3 linked regions of the Homo sapiens genome follow. The protein of the gene in region 2 interacts with the protein of the main gene of each other region in a pairwise test. Each region holds a gene or a part of one and is shown on either strand. Other genes may lie near its edges.

Region 1 (7,003 bases), on a different chromosome or scaffold from region 2:
ATCATCTAGCTGCAGACAGACAGGATCTTCATCTCTCCCAAACCTGAGAACCAACACCTTCTCAGCAGTACTTTTTATCGCCTGGTCTACTTCCTTTTTGCTAGTCAGCTTGGGCAGTAGGAAGCTCATCTTGAAATAACCCAAATGTGAATCCTCACTGTCACTCCTGAAATAAAGGTGCAATGTTTAAAGACAGTTTAGATTAAGTGCGTGAGCCCTCATTAAAAAAAATTAATTCACAGAGTAGCTAATGTATTCACATGGTATGAAAGAAACATCATAGAAAGGTAACACTGTGGAGTTTCCCTCTCTTTGTCCCTGCTCCTTGGAACCAGTTTTCATTGTTCCCTCCCCCGGGCCAGATAACTGCTTTCATTAGTTTCTCATGTATCTTTCAGAGTTTTGTTATGCATTCACCAAAAAATACAAATATGCGTTCCGATATTTTTTTTCTCTCTCTCCCCACCCCCAAAAGATAGCCTATTGTATCAGTGTTCCAGCAGGAAAGCGATGACACTCTCAACTTTGGTAATTTGAAGGCAGTTTAATTAAGGCAGGTGTAGAAAAACAATACGGTAAAGTGTACTACTTTGGGGCTAGTAACAGCGGGATGCTGTACCCATCCCTAGGCCATGGGAGGAAGAAGCCACGGTAGGAAGCAGTTATAAGAATTGTGTGGCAGAAAGAGGTGAGTGGAGAGGACAGTGTATAGGAGGGCAGCCTGCTGTTAGGTGTTGCAGCCACTCTCCTCCCTCCCTCTGACCTTTGCTCATGCAACCACCGGCTGACTCCAACTGGAACCAGAGGGCAGGGGCCTGTTGAGGCAGGCAAACCTCCCTGTCCCAGAGCAGTCTAGAGGAGGATGAAGAATGGCTGTGGAGGGACCAATGGCAGATGTTCAGCACACACACTTTATCTACTCTTCAGCACTTTTCATTATTTCAAACCTAACCTATGAAGATTGCCCCATATCTCTATATAGAGAACATCCATATTCTCTGTCATGGCAGCATATTATTTCTTGCATGTGTTACACTTTTTAAACAGTCCTTTATTGTATACTTTATATTATTACAAGTCCTGGCTTAAAGATTCTTCGTGTGCACCTTACTAGGTGCACCTCATTACACGGCAAACAGATCAATTAAGAGTGTGTGTGAAAACTACAATACCATAAACAAATAATAAAATACTGAGGTACAAGGGACCTAATACAACCCCGTCATTTTACAAACTAGCTTGCTTACAGTTGCACTTTCTACTACAATGACAAGGACTAGAATACAGGCCACCAAATTTCTAGTCCAGGGGTCCTTCTACTACAATAATCTATTTTCATGATTGGTAGAAATTTCATTTTTGAGAAACTCTTTGACAAAGAAGCTTAGTTTTGTGGTCATCTATAAGAGACTCCATTGAGATGGTCGGTATTTTGAATTCAGTTCCAAATATGAAAAGGGAGGATTTCTTTTCCTATTTTTTTTGTCACAAGTCACATTTTAAGATACGAATTAGGCCAGGCTCACCCCTGTAATCCCAGCACTTTGGGAGGCCAAGGAGGGTGGATCACCTATGGCCAGGAATTCGAGACCAGCCTGGCCAACATGGTGAAACCCCGTCTCTACTAAAAATACAAAAAATTAGCCGGGCGTGGTGGCAGATGCCACCTGTAATCCAAGCTACTCAGGAGGCTGAGGCAGGAGAATTGCTTGAACCCTGGAGGCGGAGGTTGCAGTGAGCTAGGATCGCTCCACTGCACTCCAGCCTGGGCAAGGCAACAAGAGCGAAGCTCCGTCTCCAAAAAAAAAAAAAGGAATTATTTAACTAAAATTCACATAGGAAATAAGATTGTTCCAGCTATAGGTCATACTTTAAACAGGGACATTGATGGCCCAAAGGGACGTCATCAGATGTGAGCAGCAGAACAAATTACCAATGAAAGGGAAGGTCAAAGAGAAGACGGATCTGTCCCACTAGAATTCAAACAAACAGCAGTTCCTCCGTGTTACTGATCGAAAGGAGAAAGTAAGGGGAGAACAAAGTTGTTAGTGGTGAGGCTAGGGGTGCAACTGGACAAACGTTGGAAGCAGGAGAGGAAAACTGAGACCACATCTAAGAAAATGTCCATAGTAAATGATACCCACAGAGAATTCCCAAAAGAAGACGTACAAATGGACAGTAAATAAACTAAAAAGTTAAGCTTTACCAGTAAGCAAAGAAAAGCAAATTAAAACATATGTTTACAAAGTCACTGAATTGGCAAAAATTAAACAAGATAGTGGTAGGGGCAGGCACAGGGAGTTCCTGCTGGAATGCAGACACAAAACCTTTCTGGAAAGAAAACTGACATACTCTTTGACCAATAACTCCACTGCTTTCCTCTCTCCCTCTCTTTTTCTGAGGCGGGGTTTCGCTATGTTGCCCAGGCTGGTCTCAACTCCCCAGGCTCAAGCAATCCTCCCGCCTCAGCCTCCCGAGTAGCTGGAACCTCAGGCGCGCGCCACAACTGCAGAAACACCAAAAAAAGAAAAAAAGCTTGAACTCACTTTTGTACAGAATCTTACTACAATGTATTCCAGAAAAACAACTGGAAATCAGTGGTCATCTCTGCGTGTGAACGCATGGGTGATTTTTATTTACAGCCGGGCGCGCATCTCCATTTTCCAAAATATCCGATATACATATTTAAAGTCACCTGTGTTGCGCTGCTCCTGGCCCACAAGCGCTAAGGGACCCCAGCACTTACCTTACTCGTCCACGCCGCCTCACTCCCTTTCACTTTGTGGCTGTCAGCAACCACTTCTCGGAAGAGCCCGGGCGCGGACAGCTCCTTTCATCAGCCCCAAGCCGGACAGGACCCTAAGACCAAGTCACCCAGGGGCTGTTGCCTAGCAACCCTCGTGGCCCCGCTAGCGGGAAGGAAACCGAACAGAAAACGCACAAGCGCAGAAAAGAAACTCCTGGCCGTCGGTCGGCCCCCGCTCAACAGCCCAATAAACGGAAGAGCTTCTAGTCACCGCCCACCTTGCTCGGCTCTGACCGGAAGCTAGGCGTCACCTCCGCCCGTATTAAAGATGGTCGACCTTTTTCCCCTCCTTTTCCTGCCCCCAGACTAGAGGCGGGATGTAGTCTCTTAGGCTAAGAGTGATTGGTCACAAGGAGACTCGGAAGTGTCTGATCAGAGCCCCAGAGGAGGCCTTGAGAGCCTGTTGGCGTACCGTTCCACACTTGGATCCAGGAATCGGGCGTGTTCCAGGCTGCTCTCTATGGTAGCTTTGGGCGGATAGAGGGGGCGCGCAAAGTATTAAGGGACAATAATGGCCGCTTTCAAGGTGTGGATTTTGGCTCCTTGAGCCTGTCTGAGCGAGGGGTGGCAGCGCCGGCGCCCCAGAATCCGGGACAGAAGGGTCCCAAGAGTCGCGCTTGGTGAGGTGAGAGTCCCTTCTTCCTTCCTGGCCTGCCCTTCTGTAATCATGGCGGCTCTAGGCGGCGGATATTGGTCCCCTGCTCAGGTCCGGGCCCCAGTTTGGGGAGTTCCTCTGTCGTCCCTGTCACCCACCTTGCCTTACTCACCTCAGGGATGCTGCATCCGTCCTGGCCGCCTTGGCCTTCCTCCTTGCTCTGGTCAAATCCTGCTGCCTGGAGCGGCCTCGCTGAGATCCAGGGATGCTGCCTGGAGTGGCCTTGGTCCCTCTCCCAGGCCTCCGCTTTAACCCACCCCAGACTGTCACCGAGCCCGAGTAGGACTCCTTGTGTCTTCCTCTGCTCTCTCACAGTGTCATTTATACCAGGCAATCTGGTGGGCGATCTCTTCTACTAGAATGTCAGCTCCAGGTGGGCGGGGATTTTTGTCTTGTTCTCTGTTGCTATCGCCGAGAACAGCAATTGGCTCAGGGACACCCTCAGTGAATAATTGTTGAATGAATGAATCCAGGTTCTTTCTTCCCTGGCTTTCTCGTACGCCTTGTAGTTTCTTTGCCATTAATCCTTCTCAAGAATCTTGCTCTTTAGCTCCTTATTTGTTCGTCTCAGCAGCTAATGAAGTTCTCTCTGGCTGTCTCCTTGTCCTGTGTTGCTGGAATCTTCCCTTGCTGTCTCCAGAAATGTTTGGGTTCCTGTCCTCCTTTAATAAGTTTAAATTAATTCATTTTTTAATTTATCAAACGCTTATTTTGCTAGACATTGAGCTACAGCAGTCAACAACACATCCAGTGTTCTCTCAACTGCGTAGAATGGCAGTCCAGGGTACCTTTCCTAGTTTAGACAACTATTGAGTAGAGCCTGTATATCTTTACCTTCTTGTGTGGATTTCCTCACATGCGCACAGATGTCACCAATATGCAGCTTTCTTTTTTTCTGTTCTGCCTGATGGCATTTTCAAAATGTAACTCTTGTTTCTGCATTAATATTATGTGTCCAGTCTGTTTGGCAATACTCTGTAGAGCTGTGCATTTAATTAGAGTTTGGTAAACAATTCTGGATTCTGGTGGCATCTCCTTTGCTTTGCTAACTTGTTGGAATGAGAGGAATTATCCAAGCATCCAGAACTGATATATGTTGATGAGTGGCAGATGTGTAGTGAGAGGTAAAGAGGAGCTTGTTCCAACTTGAGTGCCAGAAGTCTTGTAGCCACTTAAATACTTCTCAGTAACACCTTTTCCTAACCTGGTGTTTCTCATAAATATTTTTGGTGAACATGGATTGTTATTAAACTGATTTTGGCTGCTGTGAGTAAATTGTTTTCTGTAAAACGCAGCTAGGCCAAGAAAAGCCACTAAAGTATGGAGAACATGGACGGTAGCCTTCTGCCCCATCTCTGTGCTGCTGTACCTGTTGTTTAAAGAGAGGAAGAGGTAGAACTCATGTAAAAAAATGGGTGAGGGACCAACAGTATATAGGAGGATAGCAAATAATACAATGTAGCAGTTACATTTATGTTAACTGTTATGGTTACATAAAGAGCTACTCTTTATGGTTTCACATACACTTTTTGTTTGATTCTCACAATAGCTTCATGGATTAGATAAGGTAAAAATTTTTTCCATTTAATAGATATGAAATTATGGCTAAACAAAGATTAAGTTATTTGCTTACCATCATACAGGTAGAAAGTGTCAAGAGCCTGGTTTCTAATTGAGGTTTCTGATTCAAATTTAGTGGTGTTTTCCCTACATCCCTGTTACAGCTGCTGACATCAGGCTCTAGAAAGTGTCCCTTAGTGAGACTTTTTATTGCCTCTTGGATCTTTGTGGGGGCTGGGGAGGAATGTATGGGGTGTGTGTGTGTGTGTGTGTGTGTGTGTATCTATTTTGGTGTTTATTGGGGGTTGGAATAGGAGAATCTTTGGAGATAGGCAGTGACTTGATGGAAAGGTCTTGGAGAGAGGGAGCAAAAGTAGTCCTGGTCTTAAGGGGAGATGGGGAAGGTTAATCACCTACATATAACCATAACTGCATTTATTGTGGGATATAGTAGAGCTGAGCCTTCTCTAGTACCAAATGGTTTGCCTTCCTTCCAGAGAAATCCCAGATCCTGTGATGGGGGACACCAGTGAGGATGCCTCGATCCATCGATTGGAAGGCACTGATCTGGACTGTCAGGTTGGTGGTCTTATTTGCAAGTCCAAAAGTGCGGCCAGCGAGCAGCATGTCTTCAAGGCTCCTGCTCCCCGCCCTTCATTACTCGGACTGGACTTGCTGGCTTCCCTGAAACGGAGAGAGCGAGAGGAGAAGGACGATGGGGAGGACAAGAAGAAGTCCAAAGTCTCCTCCTACAAGGACTGGGAAGAGAGCAAGGATGACCAGAAGGATGCTGAGGAAGAGGGCGGTGACCAGGCTGGCCAAAATATCCGGAAAGACAGGTAAAGGCCTTAGTATGGGTTAGCCCAGAGGGAAGCGAACGGAGGCTGGAAAATAACAGCTCATGTTTATCTCTCAGTTTTCCTGTTGGAGATTTAGAGCTTTATGATTTTATTATGATTCTGTAATACTGAAGGTAGGTAGGAATTTGTGGGGAAAAACAAAGGTGAATAAAGACGAGATGGTAGAGGTTAGAAATGCCTTGGGTTGTTGCCATATGTGAGCCTGCGTCCCAGGGAGAGAAAGTGGAAAAGGACAGATCACTTGTTTGGACAGCCAAAGGTTTTAGGGCAGAGTTTTTCTCCTATGGAGGGGCCTTTACCAGTTGCTCTCCCTGTTTCAGACATTATCGGTCTGCTCGGGTAGAGACTCCATCCCATCCGGGTGGTGTGAGCGAAGAGTTTTGGGAACGCAGTCGGCAGAGAGAGCGGGAGCGGCGGGAACATGGTGTCTATGCCTCGTCCAAAGAAGAAAAGGATTGGAAGAAGGAGAAATCGCGGGATCGAGACTATGACCGCAAGAGGGACAGAGGTAAACTGTCCAGCACAGTTCCTATTGTCCATTAGCATTCGAATAAATGTGTCAGCCTTTTTCTTGTTGCAGGAGTTTTTGCAACACCCATTTGTTAGGGAGTCCTATTTGCATGATGTCCGCCTGAGTGGTTTTGACCCTGCTGGGATTGGGAATACTAGTTTAAGAAAAGAGCTGTTGCCTGTAACATAGCTGCTCTCCTTGAGTGTGTGGTCTTCGTTTTATTATGAAAATTGATGATAAAGGAGATAATGGGTAAATATGTATAAGAGACCAGCATTTCTAATAGTATTGGTGATAGAGAAAGGACAGTGCTATGGAACAAAGCTAGACAAAAAAATCCAATGCTGTCCTTGCTCAGTATTAAGTTTTATAGCTGATAGAATTGTAACTATTAAAAAAAATGATTCACTGTAAACTCGCACTAGTATTTTTTGAATTCTTGCTGGAAAATAACTGTTACTGTGGGTTTGAAATTTTCTAGGCAGTAACTATTTTTCCCCCTTGGGAGAATGGGGATAGGTGAGTTTCAGGAGTCCACGGATCACATTCGAGCAGTGCAGGTTGCACCTGTGAGTGAGTGGGCAGCCTGTCCTTTCTCTAGGGTGAAGATG
Region 2 (3,432 bases):
CCAGCCTGGCCAACATGGTGAAACCCCATCTCTACTAAAAATGCAAAAATTAGCCAGGCGTGATGGCGCATGCCTGTAGTCCCAGGTACTTAGGAGGCTGAGGCAGGAGAATCACTTGAGCCCAGGAGGTGGAGATTGCAGTGAGCCGAGATCACACCACTGCACTCTACCTCAAAAAAAAAAAAAGAATTTCCCCCCACCAAAAGAATGCAGGAGATGCTGTGCAGCAAAATCTGTAGCTAATGTCTTCGGTTGGAGTTATAAGTCACCAGGGATCAGCAGTGGAGGTAGTTCAGGCTGCTGGGGGTTCAGGATTGTCTTCATATGAAAGGAATACTTAGGGTAACATTTCCATAATGTGAAAAGAACATATTAAAACACTAGTTGATTACAGCTTTCTGTATGTGTGTGTGTGTTTTACCTTTCCTATGGTGCTGAAGCTTTGTGTTTTTTAAAGGTGTTTGATCAGAGTGCGCTTTCAACTGAAGCTAAAGAAGAAATGTACAAGCTGTATCCTAATGCCCGAAGAGCTCATCTGAAAACAGGAGGCAATTTCCCATACCTGTGCAGAAGTGCAGAGGTCAATCTTTATGTACAGGTAAGGCCTAGCTTGAAACCCAGAGCACTCTGAGCCCAACATATGTTTGCAACATAAAGACTTCTTTTAATGGACTAGTTAGGGAATCAGTGAACTACAGAATTCCTTGTAGAAATGAGGCATTGACTTGATAAAAGTGGTTTACATTTATAACTTGTAGGAGAATTTGAACAGGTATATTAGAGATCCCCCAGTGACTCTCTGGCCACCATCCCTTTTCTAAGGACAGCAGGCCTGCATTCACACACTGAGGTTACTATTGGTATGATGTGACCTTGCCCTCTGGACACAGTGAATTCCATCAGAGCAAGACACCAGACCTAAATGGGGTCAATCTGAGTCCTGTGAAGTGACTTCTTGATCTAATTTTAATGCATTAAAAGAAAACCCTACCAGGCGTAGTGGCTCATGCCTGTAATCTCAGCACTTTGCGAGGCTGAGGCAGGCAGATCACAAGGTCAGGAGGTCAAGACCAGCCTGGCCAATATGGTGAAACCGTCTCTACTAAAAATACAAAAAAAATTAGCTGGACGTGGTGGTGCACACCTGTAGTCCCAGCTACTCGGGAGGCTGAGGCAGAAGAATCACTTGAATCCTGGAGGCAGAGGTTGCAGTGAGCCGAGGTCACGCCATTGCACTCCAGCCTGGGCAACAGAACAAGACTCCGTCTCAAAAAAAAAGAAAAGAAAAGAAAGCCCTAACAAACACCATCCCTTCATACTCTAACTAAATGGATAATAGAATAGCAGTGAGGGGTGAGTGCCCTGGCAGTTTGGCAAGATGAATCAAGAGCCTTAAAAAACCAGTTATATCCTGGCCACGCATGGTGGCTCACACCTGTAATCCCAAAAACCAGTCATATCCCTTGATCCTGTCATCCCCTTATAGAAGACAGGATCCTAAACAGGAATACTTGATGCCCAGAGATATTCATCATAGCAGCACTAGTCACAGTAGCAGAAGATTGGAAGGACCTAACTCACAGCAGCAGAAGGGAAGGGTAAACATCTCATGAGCATGCACCATCTAAGATGTCTCAGGAGACTCTGCAGGGACTCAGGGAGACTGCTCAGGGAGTGAGGAACAAAGATCCCAAATGTGGTTTCAAAAAATTGTTTGACTTTTCTCTATTTAGTATGTCTTAGTCTGTAAATTTTAGAAGTATAAAACATTTGTCCACTATGGTGATGTTTTCCTACCAAACTTTTTATAGAAGGCAGTATACATTTTACTCTGTAATGCAGCCATTTAAAACAATGATTCTGGCAGGGTGCAGTGGCTCACACCTGTAATCTGGCACTTTGGGAGGCCGAGGCAGATGGATCACTTGAGGCCAGGAGTTCAAAACCAGCCTGGCCAACATGGTGAAACCCTGTCTCTACTAAAAATACAAAAATTAGCTGGGCATGGTGGCGGGCACCTGTAATCCCAGCTACTCGGGAGGCTGAGGCAGGAGAATTGGGTGAACCCGGGAGGCGGAGGTTGGAGTGAACCAAGATAGTGCCACTGCACTCCAGCCTGGGCAACAAGAGTGACACTCCAGCTCAAAAAATAAATAAAATAATGATTCTGCATTTCAACAGATACATTTGCTGCAATTCCATGGAACCAAATACGCGGCCATTGACCCATCAATGGTCAGTGCCGAGGAGCTTGAGGTGCAGAAAGGCAGCCTTGGCATCAGCCAGGAGGAGCAGTAGTGTGTCTCTCGCTGTCAATGATGAGTTGACCCGGTGTGTTCTTGTATAGTCAGTGGCATCAGCACCCGTCAGCCAGCCTTTTCCTTCAGGTTCGTCAGGCTCACCGGTTCTCACTGTGTCTGGGAAGTAGGACTGATGGTCATCTTCATGACAGGCGGCATCTCCACTAAGCCTGTGTAACTGTTCCCTCTTTGGTTTTCTTAGCTTTTGAATTTGAAGAAGTACTTTTGAAGACTCCCATTTTAAGAACCGTGCAAATTTTGCTACCAAAAGTCTTCACCACTGTGTTCTTAAGTGAATGTTAATTTCTGAGGTTTGGGACTTTGTGGTGGTTTTTTTCTTCTTTTCTTTTCCATTCTTCTTTCTTTCTTTTTATGTTGTTTGCTGTAAATGCTGCACATCCAGATTGCATATCAGGACATTGGTTATTTTATGCTTTCTTGGATATAACCATGATCAGAGTGCCATGGCCACTACCCCACTGTTTGCTCTCCTGCAAATCAACTGCTTTTAATTTACACTTAAACAAATTGTTTTGAGTGTTAGCTACTGCCTTTCTAGATATTAGTCATTTGGAATAAAAATTCAATTTAACTGAGTCGCTTTTGTGATTATTGTTGCTGCCCAACTGGGCTACACAGGCCTAGGACTTTCTGAGAAGTAGGTCATGGTTGCCAATTCTGTGTGACTTTGGGTAAGTTACTTAATCTCCCTGAAGTACAGTTTGCACATCATAAAATAACCCTAAGCTATCATTTATTGATCTGCTACTGTGTGCCAGGTACTTTTCTCGTCTTCTTTCCCCTGAGTGAAAATGCTTAAACCCACATGAAGTAGAGAAAATGGCATAATGAATGATGTTCCCATCATCCAGCTTCAAAAATTATCAACTCTCAGACAGTCTTGTTCATCTTTTCTTTTTTTTTTTTTTGAGACAGAGTTTCGCTCTTGTTGCCCAGGCTGGAGTGCAATGACGTGATCTCGGCTCACCGCAACCTCCGCCTCCCGGGTTCAAGCAATTCTTCTGCCTCAGCCTCCCAAGTAGCTGAGATTACAGGTATGCACCACCACGCCCGGCTAATTTTGTATTTTTAGTAGAGATGGGGTTTCTCCATGTTGGTCAGGCTAGTCTCG
Region 3 (7,039 bases), on a different chromosome or scaffold from region 2:
GGATTACAGGTAGGGTACCTTATAGACATCTAAGGACCACACAGGGTACTTCATTAATCAGATTCATAAATCCAATCATAAATATTATATTGGCTAAGTTATAAAGAAAGTGAGACATGAAGATTCCAGCTTTTTTTATTTTTTCCCCTTTTACACAAAACAAAGTAGAAGAAATAATACAGGATTAAAACTGCAAAAGTAGTTAATCAGTAGAATATGTATGCACACAAAAAATCCAGATAGGAAGACAGGCTTATTTACAATGAAAGTAAGGTAAAATTAACGTAGTTTTCTTATGAAATAATAAAAAAAAATCAAACATATGCTACAATGGGCACCACTGTTCACAGCAATATTAAAGAGGAGAAAACAACACTTATTTAATAGGGACAGATATACCACAAGGTACAACATCAGTGCAATAAATTCACAAAACTATATTACAGCTAGTTAATCAGTTTAAGAATTGTTCCCGTCAGTCACATTTTTTGGCCCTCAGAAGTTCATTCCTAAAGATTTCAACTACTCTAAATTTCTAGCTACCAAGAAGTTAAGAATGATTATAAGAAGCTTTCCAAGGAGTTATGAAATCTTTGTAGACCAGAGGCCAACTATCATCACCTCAAGTCTGCTCTCACCAACAGCCCTTGTATTTTTCAGGGAGAAATCTCTAGGAAAAAAGTCAGACACCAGTGTAGTCACTATCTCCCATGTCAAACCTAGGGGACTAAAATGGTCAGTATTACCATAAAATGATAATTTTGAGGTTTACCTTAAAAGGCTTATTCTGGTCTCAAAAATTAGATAAGATTATCTTCTACTGAAATGAATATTGACTAAACATAGAAGACTGCTGTCCTTTTGCCAGTCTTAGAGTGAAAGTCATAGACATGAGTCTTAACCTACTGTATACTATAGCTAATGTCAGCTGAAAATCTGAAATTAAAAGCATGCTAGAAATCCTAAATGCAATCTTTTGGAAGTCTGCTATTAAAAAGCCTTTAAGGATTTACTAACTTCGAGTCTAAGTGCAAGGGGACGAAAGCTTAAGCCTGTCAGACATTCCTTTTCTTGGACAAAAAGATCAAAGTTTCCTACAAATTGCTAAGCTTTGCACAAGGGAGAAGCCTACATGTACTAGTGCATGGAATCAGTTTCATCTTATTTCATGGGGACTCTTCTCCCACTGGAAAGAAACAGAATGAGGAATGAATCTTAATTGGTCTCTTCATCAGAAGTGGTAAACTTGGTCTCTATATTCACGAAGTCAGACAGTTTTTTAAGCAGACTGTGGAAGCAGACAGAACCAGCTTCCTGTAGCCACAGACCACTACATGGTATCTAAGCTAAAGCAAAGATGAACAATTATCCAGATTCACTTGAACTGTACTAAAGGGCAAGGTTCACCACTACAAAAAGGAAGTTGTCTAAAAGCAAGAATTCAATTAACGCTGGGTAAGAAAAGTCAAAACACTAATGAGTTGTCCATGAAGCCAACTGCTAAGAACGCGCTCAACTATACGCGACATGAAGACACTATGCACGAAGCCTTACTTGGCGAGTCTGAATTTCTATTAACTAAGGGCAGAGTGAGGGAGAACAAAGAGCTACTTCCGTAACATTTTAGTATCCAGATAGTACAGCAGAAACGGTTCCCGGGGCAATGGGTGCTGCATTAATCACACTGATTAAAGCAGATGAATCATTCGTTTTTCTTTTCTTTTTGTTTGAGAAGTTTGTTTATCTCCCTCTTGGCCATTCCAATGTACTTCAAAATGATTCCATGTTGGTTTAGTCCAGGAAGCAATAGTAAGGAAGTCACTTAAAATAAAAAAAAACCCAACATTAAGGAGGCAGCAATTAACCTGCTAAAGGTTATTACTTTTTTTTTTTTTTTTTGAGACAAAGTTTCACTTTTGTTGCCCAGGCTGGAGTGCAATGGCGCAATCTTGGCTCACCGCAACCTCCGCCTCCCAGGTTCAAGCGATTCTCCTGCCTCAGCTACCCAAGTAGCTGGGATTACAGGCATGCGCCACTACGCCTGACTAATTTTGTATTTTTAGTAGAGATGGGGTTTCTCCATGTTAGTCAGGCTGGTCTCGAACTCCCAATCTCAGGTGATCCGCCTGCTTCAGCCTCCCAGAGTGCTGGGATTACGGGCGTGAGCCACCACACCCAGCGACAAGTCTCACTCTTTTTGCCCAGGCTGGAGTGCAATGGCACAATCTCGGTTCACTGCAACCTCCACCTCCCAGGTTCAAGCGATTCTCCTGCCTCACCCTACCAAGTAGAGTAGCTGGGATTACAGGTGCCTGCCGCCACGCCTGGCTAATTTTTGTATTTTTAGTACACATGTGATTTCGCAATGTTGGCCAGGCGGTCTCCAACTCCTGACCTCAGGTGATCAGAGGTTATTACGTGTGTATGGCGGTGGTGGGTGGGGGGGGTGGTGAGTGCAGTGGTGTGATCTCAGCTCACTGTAACCTCCACCTCCTGGGTTCAGGTGATTCTCATGCCTCAGCCTCCTAGGTAGCTGGGACTACAGGTGTGTACCACCACATCCAACTAATTTTTGTATTTTTAGTAGAGACAGGGTTTCGCCATGTTGGCTAGGCTGGTCTCAAACTCCCGGCCTCAAGTGATCCACCTGCCTCAGCCTCCCAAAGTGCTGGGATTACAGGCTGAGCCACCGTGACCAGCCAGTTATTACATTTTAAAGAAGGCAGGTTCCTACATTATTAAACTCAGTAATGGGAGGAAGCAACATGAAATCAATTACTTCCACTGGGATGTATCCCCAGAAACTTCTGCTCTCATCCCCTCTTCCACCTCAGAAAATAATCATTGCTTATTTTTACCTCTTGCACATTACTTTCTACCTTGGTTATTGCATTGTTTTCACTTTCTATGAGACCATAATAATCTTTCCATATTCCCACAGTTCCTTTTCGGTGTCTAAAACTTAGGAAGTATTCAGCTGTTTACTGACGAAGTTACAGTTAAATTTCACTGGCCAGGATGTGCCTGTAGTTTTTCCTCAAAGACTTACCTATCAGGTAGGTGAGAAGCAGGTTGTGGACTTGTTGTCCCACCCAAGCAACCGCAGCAAGGGAAACGATCATGGTCATGAAGTACTAGCAATGAAAACAAGAATTTAATATCAAAACTTCATGTGACACCATAAATATATGTAATTTTTATTTGTCAATTAAAGAAGAATGTGTTTCAAAGTTCGGGAAATAATTTAGCTTTTATTATCACTTTTCTTTAAAAATTCTTAGATTTAAAAACCTATTCCATTGGATCTACTTTATAGAATTTGGATACATTTCTTCCTAGAATTACTGCAATTCTGTATGTAAATATTTTATGATATAAATTATACGATCTTTTCAGTTAATAACTTCACGGAACAGCCTCACGACGTGAAGCTTACAGATAAGAGAACAGATGAACAGATGCTTTCCTTTTTTTTTTTTTTTTTTGAGACAGAGTCTCATTCTGTCACAAAGGCTGGAGTGCAGTGGTGCAAACAGCTCACTGCGCAAACACAGCTCACTGCAGCCTCGACCTCCAGGGCTCAAGTGATCCTCAGCCTTCCATGTAGCTGGGATTATAGGCATTAGCCACTGTGCCCGGCCTAAACAGATGCTTTCTAAGTATATGTCTTTTACTATTATTTCAGTAAGAAAAATGAAACAGAAGAATTTTGTTTTATTAGAATAAAAAATTAAATGCAAAAATGTAATTTTTAACTTTAAAATGATTCAGTCTAATTAATACAGGTAAACATTTATGAATGTACTTAGGAATTAACCAATGAATAATTTTCAAATTATAGCTATTAAGACAAAAAGGCGAATTGACTCAAATCTTAAAATTTTACTGTACTTAAGTCAAAGCAAAAAAAGTACCATCTTAGGTTTTTCTTCCTTTAGTGTGAAGAGGCGTTTCCACCAACCCACAGCTCTGCGTCGAGTTTTTACTAGATTGCTGCAAATTTCATGGAATCTTTGCTGTTGTTCAGTGGTCCTAGAAAAGAAATTTGCCTTTTGCTATAAACAAATCGTTACAGTAGACAAAAACATGACACCCTGTTCAATTTAAGAGCTATCTTCTAAAGAAAATAAAAATAAAAACAATGTTTCACCATTATCTTATGTAGGTGAAAAAATCCTTCCACCATTAAGACACCTTTTATAGCACAGGAGTAAGTATTTACATAAACTATGTGTGTGAGAGAGAGAGTGTGTGTGTGTGTGCGTGTGATAAAGAAAGGATCATCTCTGGCTCTGAAGCCACATTTATTTAATGGTAGTAAAAGACTCATGACTTCTATGGGCCATAAAGAAATCAGTATAAATTTGATTTTGCTATTCCTAAATATTCTTTAGATCCTAGTAAATGCTGCACTATACCTACCAGAATCCCACCGAACAACTGTATTTGAACACTCCTTAGTAAGATACTAACTACTGGCATTTAACACATAACACCCCCAACTGGGCTTCATACATCTGATGACAAGGCAGCAATAAACAGCTCAAATCTAAATTCTTCTTTGTAAATTTATCCCTAGGGAGGGAAAATATAATCAACAAACAACACAGCAGTAAAAATCCAACAAGAGACCCTCCAAGAAAACCTTTTATATTTATAATGTTTTTCTTGGTTCTGATTTTTTTAATTGCCTTTGCACTGTCTTCGCTACACAGCTATAATGGCTGCTATTATTGCCCTGTGCTGAGGGATGTGTTGCCTTCTCTTCTCTAGCCCTCATCTCTGTAAAACTGCAGTGATAGATAAAGTACAAGGATTTCTGCTGAGCCCTGGAACTTCTTTTCAACAATGAGATGTTATTTCTTGCCCATGGTCAAGGCTAGATTGTGGCTATGCAAAAGAGTATTCTTTCTTCCTTGTAAGATCAAAAAATAAACAAAATCTGCTCTATCAATAACTGAGTCACATCACGAAACTATCAGTGGTTATTTCTGCAAACTTTCCTCTAGGAGTTATAAATTAGCAGACTGGAATGTTATCTGGCTAATAAGGCCAAGGTCAGTGATTTATTTCCTTTGCTAACTCTGTTATACTGCACATTCAGAAACTTGCCCAAAAGAGCCAACAACATTGATTCATTACTGCAAGTGAAAAACAATTTGGACAGTTCCTAACACTAATCCATTCTGCTGTTGGGGGAAACACCTTTAAATATTGTCAATTATATCATAATTTAAGCAAACTTTGAATTTGTTCTTAAAGATCCATAAGGTACACATTTAAAATTCTTATATTTACAGAATTATTTTGCAATTTGCTATCCTCTGAGATACAAACAACCAAAGGCACAAGTAGAATACTAACCAAATAAAATAAACAGCCAAGGATAGAATAGCAGCTGAGAAGAAAATATCTATTCCAACTTCTATTTTGGCTGATTATTTGAATCAAAACTCAACATGCTAGAGAAAGTTAAAATACTTTTAATATGATCCTTATCCACTTAACTATATCTGAGGAGTTCATAAGCAACCTCATGGTATAAATAGGCCGGGCACGGTGGCTCACGCCTGTAATCTCAGCACTTTGGGAGGCCGAGGCGGGCGGATCACAAGGTCAGGAGATCGAGACCATCCTGGCTAACATGGTGAAACCCCGTCTCTACTAAAAATAAAAAAAAAAAAAATTAGCCAGGTGTGGTGGTGGGCACCTGTAGTCCCAGCTACTCGGGAGGCTGAGGCAAGAGAATGGCATGAACCTGGGAGGTGGAGCATGCAGTGAGCCAAGAGCGTACTGCACTCCAGCCTGGGCAACAGAGCGAGCCTCCATCTCAAAAAAAAAAAAAAAAAAGAGAATGGTATAAATAAAATCAGCAACCCATGTGTATACAGCTTGAACCTCTTCGGAAACACTTGGTATTCACTTTGTTAACTGCCATTCCACTGCCTCAGTGTCTCAGTATCTCAGCCTTAACACAAGATCAATCTTAAAAGTCAAAATATTTCACAGTACTTTACAGGGCCTGCCACAGTAGGCATTTAATAAATAATTGCTAAATGAATGTGAATGAAAATCTGCCAGTTTCCTTTTCTGTATTCATTCAAAAATAATTTGTGAAGTTATTATACTATCCTAAATATCAATGGAAATGTAAAAATGTATATGTGCATTTACCATAAAAGAACTATGGAGTACAGAAAATTCATAGTTTATATTCAAATCAGTTACAATATTCTTCACATAAAAGCAATAAATCTAATGCTTAGGTGTCTGATGGTTAGACAATTATCTCTGCTTATTTACAGCATACTAATCACAGCCACCAAGTTCAGTAACTACACAAAAATGAGACTGCCAAATCATTATGCTACCTACCATTTATTGGAGCCAAAAATTCTAGGCGCTAGAATGGGAACAAGGTAGTCAGCCAAGCACAAAAACATAACAAAACAGGAAACGCCGGACAGAACAGATGGATCTAGATAGTAGATAATCCTGTTAAAAAAATTAATAAAGGTTAGAAAAACATAGTCATTATTATTCCTAACTAAACATGTCTAACTTAACTATTCACTTAACTATTCACCGCCTCTCAGAGATATTTGCCATTTTTCTTCTAATTTTCTCACAAGTGGCTTTCCAGAGGCTTTGTGACATGCTGATATCATAGCTGCAGTGGTTAAGTATATATCAATGGACAAAAGCTCTTTGGAGTTCTCAGCACTTTTTTAAGAGTTTAGGGAGGTGGGGGACTAGGGGAGGGATAGCATTAGGAGAAATACCTAATGTAGATGAAGGGTTGATGGGTGCAGCAAACCACCATGGCACATGTATATATACCTATGTAACAAACCTGTACATTCTACACATGTTTCCCAGAACTTAAAGTATAATAACAAAAAAAGAGTTTAAGTGTCTGGAGGACAAAAAGTTTGCGAGTCACTGATTTACTCAAGTGCTTTAGGTTACCAAGTTTACAGAAGTACTACAAATTCTGGAAACTAGAAGTGCTTATGAGAAACATTCTTTATGGGTTCTT

What was found. Proteins that work in one complex are often made in the same cells at the same time.
Region 1: the proteins of SPG21 (region 2) and TXNL4B interact in binary tests that used the Homo sapiens proteins (3 or more experiments, as listed by UniProt).
Region 3: the proteins of SPG21 (region 2) and ARL6IP1 interact in binary tests that used the Homo sapiens proteins (3 or more experiments, as listed by UniProt).

What each region holds. Positions count from the first base shown.
Region 1 is NC_000016.10:72,090,621-72,097,623, forward strand, and holds the start of TXNL4B (thioredoxin-like protein 4B), read right to left. Parts: upstream 3,001-7,003; 5' UTR 2,747-3,000; intron 167-2,746; 5' UTR 130-166; coding exon 1-129. Other genes in the region: DHX38 (pre-mRNA-splicing factor ATP-dependent RNA helicase PRP16), read left to right, coding at 5,538-5,860, 6,202-6,389. UniProt on the Homo sapiens protein: Essential role in pre-mRNA splicing. Required in cell cycle progression for S/G(2) transition.
Region 2 is NC_000015.10:64,962,486-64,965,917, reverse strand, and holds the end of SPG21 (maspardin), read left to right. Parts: intron 1-457; coding exon 458-598; intron 599-2,181; coding exon 2,182-2,298; 3' UTR 2,299-2,896; downstream 2,897-3,432. UniProt on the Homo sapiens protein: May play a role as a negative regulatory factor in CD4-dependent T-cell activation.
Region 3 is NC_000016.10:18,791,550-18,798,588, forward strand, and holds the end of ARL6IP1 (ADP-ribosylation factor-like protein 6-interacting protein 1), read right to left. Parts: intron 6,496-7,039; coding exon 6,376-6,495; intron 4,033-6,375; coding exon 3,915-4,032; intron 3,135-3,914; coding exon 3,050-3,134; intron 1,822-3,049; coding exon 1,703-1,821; 3' UTR 120-1,702; downstream 1-119. UniProt on the Homo sapiens protein: Positively regulates SLC1A1/EAAC1-mediated glutamate transport by increasing its affinity for glutamate in a PKC activity-dependent manner.